2 separate regions of the Homo sapiens genome follow, and region 2 is linked to region 1. A link means that fine-mapping ties the variant in region 1 to the expression of a gene that starts in the linked region. Tissue or cell type: anterior cingulate cortex. Region 1 holds a variant in brackets; the other region holds the start of a gene. All regions are shown on one strand. Distances are between the middles of the regions.

Region 1 (4,241 bases):
TCAAATAATGTAAAGTAAGTCTGAATTTATTAGGACAAAACAGTCATATGCAAATCTCAATCTTGTTATAAGAAGGAATTTTCTAGTTTCACAAAAGAAACCACAAAATTTAATTCTTTTCTCGAAGGCTTTAACATTCTGCATCACAATTTCAATAAATAACGGTCATTCTAAACAAACAAAAATGTTCTTACCGTGCTTCTTTTAATCAGCGTTTTGATTTTCTGCTAGCAGCTTTGTGTCATGTCTTGCAGAAACTCTCTTCAAAGTTGTAACTTTATTTAACTTTAATATAAAAATGTTACTCTTGTTTTTACAGCACAGCTCCAAACTAGAGGTATACCACTTTTGAAGAGTAACTCAAAGTATAAATAGCATTTTGCAAACTGGAAGTAACCATGTGACTATCTATTAGTCATACTGTTGTTTATTACAATTTTCTTCTCGTCAAAAAAGAAAGCTTGCCAAGGAGGAAGGAAGTTTGTGATATAACAATTTAAAGCTGAAGAATAAACACATATTTTCTTACTTTCTCAACTGGGATTCTCATCTGAACCACAGAACACGAAATTGCTCAAGTGGCTGTTTTTCTGATTCATCCAGGAGTGGTACTTAACCACGTATCCTTCCAGAACTGTAGGAGAGGCTGATACTAATTAATTCAACAGCATTCTTTAGGACATTACTGCTTTCTTATCCTGTGTTAAGAAAGATCACCTTAAAAGCGATAGAATCAAAGAAAAAGCAATGGTTTAAACTTTGGCTACTGAAAGAAAAACAAAAACTATTATCTCTCTCTCAAAGACAAATGCGTGCAAAGTCACACGTGTGGGTGTGAGCACACACACAAACACACACAAAGACACACAGAGGGAAAAAAGAAAACGAAAGTAACAAAGTGCCCAGAACGTTATCATCAGCATACAAGATGACACCATTATGCTTTTGCTAAGTTACCAGGCCACAATTTTGTCTTCAAATCTGCTCTAATCAGTTTCCCAGTGATTTTGTATTACCCCTCAACAAATATATTAGGGAGGAAACTGAGGAGAAGAAGCCAGTGTCCCGCAAGCGGCTTCGGGATTAACACTGCATTTGTTCTGAGAGAGAAACTTGAAGAGGAAAAGCAAATGAGAATAGAGAAGAAACTGTAGTACAAAGGAATTAAAACAAAGAAAATATGAAGAGAATAAGAAATACAGGTTTAATCATTTCTGGGCAGAAGGAAAGGACAGATAACAAAATTGCTCTTTTCATTTTTGGACAGAAAAAAAAGACAGAAAATTCATGAGGAAATGAATATATTCTACCTTTGTTGTTAACAAAAGATTGTATCCAAAGAACTATTAGAAAAGCATGTATAGAAAAATATAGAGATTACTCAAGTATGGTTGAGTGAAATTTAGTTTTGTTCCAAAAAGGAAAACAGTCAAGATACAACAGTTAAGATATAAAACATTTTCAACACAGGGAAATGTTCCCCGCTGTTGCTTTGCAGTTCATCCTCACCCCTGAAGCCAGGCAGCAGCCAACTTACTGTCAATAAACATGAGCTTTGCTGGTTTTAGAAATTCCTGTTAAGCAGAATGATACAGTTGGCAATTCTTGTAAGTCTGATGTCTTTCACTGAGCATAATGTTTTTGAGTTTTATCCATGTTTTTGCACAGATCAGCAGTTAATTTCTTTTTATTACTGAGTAGTATTTCATTGTACAGACATAAAATATTTTTATCTATTTTATAATAAAATGTATCCATTATGACATTGAGCTTTTTCCACTTCTTGGATATCATAAGGTCAAAATAAACATTTATGCAAAAGTTTTTCTATTGACACGTTTTTTAATCTTTTGAAGAAATACCTGGATGTGAAACTGCTAGGTTACATAGAAAATGTATGTTTTATTTTATAAATGTATTTTTTTCCAAAAAGTTGTGCCATTCCCAACATGAATATTGGATGGTTCTATTTGCTCCACAT[A/C]AATAGCAATATTAGATATGCCCAATCTTTTTCAATTTAACCATTCTAGTAGGCGTGTAGTAGAATCTAAATGTGATTTTAATTTGTACATCTCTGATGTTATATTGAGCATTTACTCACGTGCGTATTGGTAACTCATATATCTTTTTTCAATGACCTATTTAAATATTTTTCCCATTTTTATGGATTTATTTGTTTCCTTATGGTGATTTTTAAGATTTTATATATATGTAAATATATATGTAGAGAAACATACACATAAAAATGTGTATATAAATAAGTAAAATGGGTTGCAACATAATATAGAAAAATTCCATTTTTAGATAAATGTATTAAAAATACTTTCCATCATTTGTATAGTGACTTTTCACAATTTTTTTTCTCAAAAATTTTAAAAATCTAGAAGCTTCTAAACGTTGGACTCTCTAATCCTAACAAAGTTACATGTTCTCCCTTGTCGAGGTCATGCCTTTTTCCTTAAAGAAAATATTGTGCCCTTCACACCCTCCTTACAGGAATCCCTCCCTTACTTGCCTTTCTTAGTTATTGGTCATAAGGCCAATAACTAAGGTTATGTGCTAAGCTTATAAGGGAGAGAAAGGGCTATACTCAGAATGAATTTGGACCTAACCAATATATAATAACAACAGCTTGGAGTGTACACAATGGGATTGGATTCTGAGGGTGCTAGATCATGAGAGAAACATAAAGCTGGATAAGGGAGATTTTATCAACATTAGGGCATTCAGTTGCAATACAGAATTTAATAACTTGGAAAAATACTGTGAACAGTGCTGACATACTGCTGAAATAACTCCAAGAAGATTGGAGAAAGCAATGGCTCACGCTGAGTAGAGTAACATTCCAGAATTCCCATGGCAGGTAGCTGAAGAAAAGATAAAAATGCTTAGAGAAGTGGGCATGCTACAGTGGATAAACTAGATAAGGACAGGAAACCCACCAACTGACTATGTTCTATGGGATGATATAATGGGCACCTTATTTACCAAAGCAGTAAGGAAGGCGCTGGTGGAAGAACTTAAGTCCTACATAAACATCACTGAGAAGCTTAGCATAGTTCTTCTCTACATGCCAAAGATTACAGTGGGAGATGTTCCCACAGAACTGAATTCAGAGAGAGTATTGGGACAGGGTTTGAAGTAGGAAACGCCAAGTGTCAGAGTGCCACTCTGAAACAAGCTGGGGCCAATTATAGTAATGAGGGTCAAATTGCAATAGCAGCCAGGATTACTGACATATAGAGCCATAGCAATGTCAGATAGAGCTCAATGTTCACAGAAGTAATATAGAGAGCCAAAAAGGGTGCTTCCACTTCTGTGCTGTCCTTTAACAACTGGTGGAACAGAGAAAAACACACACATAACAAGCTCTGGTTTGTAACACCAGCTGATTTCCGTGATGTAATTATTCCCACCATTGCTGATTTCAAGGTACCCAGGTGACATCACTGAACACACAGAGTTGGAAATAAATATGCAGTAGTACAGCATTACGTATTATTTTCACTATACGGATGTAACAGATGTTAATAATTTCATGCATGGATAATAGCAAAATCTTCTAAAAATCATCACAAATTGATGAGTTCTAAGTATTTATTTTATTAGCTTGGCATTAGGGCCACAATGACTCCAAATGTCATGACCCAGGTTAGGTTCCAGCCCATGCTGAGGTCTGAGGGGAGTGGGTGGATGGGCGATAGCTGAAAGAACACTTGGGGGCCCTAAGCAGGTGAAATGTAGTTTTATTTACCAACAGCGACTCTCTCACACTGTCTGCCTTTATCTCCGCTGTCTGCTCTGGCTCTGGGACTCCTGCCGCCGCCACGCCTGCAGCAGCACGCCCTGGCCTGCAAGGCCAGCTCTGTCAGGATTAGCAGCTTAACTCTTTCCCTCTGGGCACAAGCTCGTTCCTGGTTCCCCTCTGCCTGCCTTCAAGGCGACTGGCTCTCCCTTACAAGGGTCAATAGTGCTACTCTCTTTCTGGGCACCAGTGCGAGCCATGTCATGCCATGCCACGCCATGCTGAGCCAAGGCAAGCCCAAGAGCGCCTGTACAGCATCAGCAGGGCAGTTATACCTTTTCCAAACAATAGTGGATTTGAGCCAAGTATGAGCTTACACAAACAGGTTATATAACAAGTGGAGTTATATGCCTGCACTCCAAACTCATTAAGTCACTATGGCCTGGATGTCTGCCTCAGCCTACTTCTTGACCAAAGCACATTTATGCACCTTACT
Region 2 (4,544 bases), 44 kb before region 1:
GGAGGCATCACATTGCCCAACTTCAAATTATACTACAGTACTACAATATCCAAAATAACAAGGTACTGGTAAAAAAAAAAAAAAAAGCAGACACATAGACCATTGGAACACAATGGTCTAATGCAGACACATAGACCACTGGACAGAAAGCCCAGAAATAGTGCTGCACAACTACACCCATCTGATCTTCAGCAAAGCTGACAAAAACAAGCCATGGGAAAAGGATTCCCTTTTTAATAAATGGTGCTGAGATAACTGGCTAGCCACATGCTGAAGATTGAAAGTGGACCCCTTCCTTATACCATATACAAAGCTCAACTCAAGATGGATAAAATACTTATGTCTAAAACCCCAAAATATAAAAAACCCTGGAAGATAACCTAGGAATTACCATCCTGGACACAGGAATGGGCAAATATTTCATGACAAAGATGCCAAAAGCAATTGCAACAAAAGTGAAACAAAACAAAACAAACAAACAAAATAATTAACTGTAAGAGCTTCTGCACAGCAAGAGAAACTATCAACAGAGTGAACAGATAATCTACAGAATGGGAGAAAATTTTTGCAGACTATGCATTTGACAAAGGTCTAATATCCAGCATCTGTAAGAAACTTAAACCAATCAACAAGCAAAAAATAAACAACCCCATTAAAAAGTGGACTAAGGACATGAACAGATACTTTTCGTGTTTTATTTATCAATCTTAATTTACTTCTTATCCATTTGGAGTGTCAAATAATGGCCAAAGAAATTGTAATTATAAATTAAAGAACAAAATTTAGCAAGTAAAAATAAACAAAAATAACACAAAAATGTATTATCCTTTTACTTTTGTCATTAAGCAACAAATATATTTCTGATAATTTGTCAAATATTTTCTCCTTGAATTAATAGTTTATCTTATTTAAAAGGGTATATTGTGTTTTTAAAATTTTATTTTAAATTTGGGAGTACATGTGCAAATTTGTTACATAGGTAAACTTGTGTAATGGGGGTTTGCTGTAAAGATTATTTCTTCACCCAGGTATTAACCCTAGTACCCATTAGTTATTTTTCCTGATCCTTTCCCTCTTCCCACCCTCTATCCTCCAGTAGGCACTAATCATTAGGGAAATGCAAATTAAAACCACAGTAAGATACCATCTCATACCAGTCGAATGGCTATTATTAAAAAGTCAAAAAATAACAGATGCTGATGAGGTAGTGGAGAAAAGGGTTCACTTATACACCTTTGATGGGAGTGTAAATTAGTTCAACCATTATGAAAGATAGCATGGTGATTCCTTAAAGACCTAAAACCAGAAATTTGACCCAGCAATCCCATTACTGGTATATACCCAAAGGAATATAAATCTATCATAAAGACACATGCATGCATCTGTTCATGGCAGCACTGTTGACAATAGCAAAGACATGCAATCAACCTAAATGCCCATCAATGGTAGACTGGATAAAGAAAATGTGATACACATATACAAAGGAATACTATGCAGCTATAAAAAAGAATGAGATGATGTCCATTGCAGGAACATAGATGAAGCTAGAGGCCGTTACCCTTAACAAACTAATGGAGGAACAGAAAACCAAATACCACATGTTCTCACTAATAATTGGGATCTAAATGATGAGAACACATGTACACATAGAGGAGAATGACAGACACCGGAGCCTACTTGAAGGTGGAGGGTGAGAGGAGGGGCAGGATCAGAAAAACATAACTATGTAGTACTAGTCTGAATACCTGGGTGATGAAATAATATGTACAACAAACCCCTGTGACATGATTTTACCTATATAACAAACCTACACATGTAGCCCTGAACCTAAAAGTTAAAAAAAATCAAATTATACTGTTAAATTATTAGCATGATTTATAAACAATATTGTTTTAGGATAAAGAATTTAATTGCTTGGCAATTGCAAATTATTAAATTAAATATCAATATGTTAGGGAGGCTAATTCAAATGATATAAATATTTAGGCTATAACAAAAGGCAGCTATATATTATTAACCTCACCTCAAAAAGGGGCATAATTTCCATTCCCTTGACTTTAAGGGTAAATTAAGAGAAATTTGTAAAGCACTCAAAAGAATATTCAATTCAATATGTGGTGGACAGTTGAGAAATTATGTGTTATCTATGTCATGGGAAAGCAACTTTTAAAAAGAAAACATTTCCTCTGAGGTTTTCACAAATAAGTGAAACTGTGAACCCTCATATGTACTGTGAAAGGACAATTTGAGGAGCATCTCTGATTAGCAGCAGATTTATTATTCTTTCCTCATTTCATGTTATACTTAATAAAACAAAACATACCTGTATACACACACATTCACTCACATTGAAGATGCAAGATGAAGAAAGATACATGACATTGAATGTACAGTCAAAGAAAAGGAGTTCTGCCCAAACATCTCAACTTACATTTAAAGGTATGGAATTTAATTTCATTTTTTCAATTGGTGTGAATTAACATGGTAGTTTCCCGTATCCTGTTCCATTGTGTTATTGGACTGTTTCAGTATTTGGGTGCTTTTCTTTCTCCGTCTCTGTATCTCTCTCACCTGTCCTCTCTTTCAATATTAATAATGATTTAAAAATAACAACCTCTCTTACCATTTAAGAAACACCAGTTTCCGGCACTATACAGAATGTTTTATCTATGTTCCTTCATTTAATCTTACAAATTTACTATGAGATAATCTCTCTCTCTCCCATTTATCAATGTGGAACTAACACTTACTTGTAATATTTTGTCTGATATAATTTCTTAAGGACATTCTCTGAGGAAATATGCATACTCAATTAAAATTAATAATTTCAAATTAGTGAATATTTGCTGCCATTCACCTCCTTATCATTCATAGAATATGGTGTTTTAATGCTATTTTTTTTTTTTGAGACGGAGTTTCACTGTTGTTGCCCAGGCTGGAGTGCAATGGCATGATCTCGGCTCACTGCAACCTCTGCCTCCCAGGTTCAAGCAATTCTCCTGCCTCAGCCTCCTGAGTAGCTGAGATTATAGGTGCCCGCCACCATGCCTGGCTAATTTTTTGCGTTTTTAGTAGAGATGGGGTTTTACCATGTTGGCCAGGCTGGTCTTGAACTCCTGACCTCAGGTGATCCACCCACCTGAGTCTTCCAAAGTGTTGGGATTATAGGCATGAGCCACCGCGCCCAGCCTTTAATACTAATTTTTAATTCAACTTCTCAAAAACTTTATGCTTTTCACCAAGTTGACTCAAAATAAAGTTTATACACCAGCAATCAACATTTTAATTTGCTACTTCAAGCATACCCTCCATACACAATGCAATTCCATCATGCCACCTTAATGTGATTTGGCAAAAGAGATAAGCAGAAATTAAAGACACAAATAATCACAGTTATAGAGACTGTCTGTTCTGTTCTGTTGCTTTCTAAATATTTCTCTTTTAATAACTTCACCCATGAAAATTTTACTTATCTCTTGAGTCCTTCCACAAGTATCATCCATCAGTGATTCATCTTAGAGTTACATACGTGCTATGTATAAGAAATTTATTGCCTCTTCCATGTGAATTTTTAGATTCCCATATTTTCAAGTCTTTACTTCCTACACTCAATTTTTATTTCATTTTTGGAAATTAGAGATATTAAACCTGAAAGACTACAACATGTAGTGACTTCTCTGCAGACTTTTTTCCACACTCTGTTCATAAATGTCTCTCTGAAGCAAAAATGTGCAGATTTTCGGCTCCCAGATATTTAAGTGACACATACTAATATTTATGTCTTGTACCTTTAGCTAATATTTATTAAAGCTTGAGGTAAGACGTATTTTATGTGAATTAGATTGACAATGTGAGCCTTGGGGTTATGATGTTCATTCATTTAACTTAATTTTGTGATGACATATTTGTAAATCTTTTCTCATATATTGAAAAACCTTTGTTGCCAGTGATAGTAAGAAATTACATAATTGCTCTATCCCACTATACATATGTAGTAGTTTCAGAATCACTATAGAAATAATATTATAATAATAGTTACTTAAAACAGATTAAAATGTTTTGCGGTTTTAAAAAATCCTTAAGATATATTCCATTGAGCATGCACAGTTAAATGTTTTAAAATCACTTTAAGTAATTCCTCTCTCTATAGTGAAGACACTAACAATACCTAGTTAGATTCCTTTTCTTCATTTTTTATGGATTTTTTTTCATTTTTGTTTAACTTACTTTATAGTAGCATAAAACATTTACATATTTTCAGTCAAACTTATATAATGAGGGGCCAAGTGTGGTGGCTCATGCCATTAATCCCAGCACTTTGGAAGGCCGAGGCAGGATGATCGCTTGAGGCCAGGAGTTCAAGACCTGCCTGGGCAACAAATCAAGACCCCCATCTCTACAAACAATAGAGATAAAAAAATTAATCAGTCATGGTGGCACATGCCTGTAGTCCTAGCTACACAGGGTGCTCAGGAGGGAGGATCTCTGAGCCCAGGAGCTCAAGGTTACAAAGAGCTCTAATGGTGCCACTGCACTCCAACCTG

Evidence for each region. PIP is the estimated chance that this variant, and not a neighbour inherited with it, causes the effect. A credible set is the group of variants that fine-mapping cannot tell apart.
Region 2: KLRF1 starts here. The variant in region 1 is the best candidate, but not a certain one, in a credible set for the expression of KLRF1 in anterior cingulate cortex (GTEx, PIP 0.80).

What each region holds. Positions count from the first base shown.
Region 1 is chr12:9,869,011-9,873,251 of GRCh38, forward strand. CLEC2B (C-type lectin domain family 2 member B) reads right to left here and starts at 344. Exons shown (of 5, transcript NM_005127.3): 1 at 195-344. The variant A/C (reference allele first, on the strand shown) is at 1,982.
Region 2 is chr12:9,825,191-9,829,734 of GRCh38, forward strand. It overlaps KLRF1 (killer cell lectin like receptor F1), which reads left to right and starts at 2,291. Exons shown (of 6, transcript NM_016523.3): 1 at 2,291-2,439. The coding sequence starts at 2,355.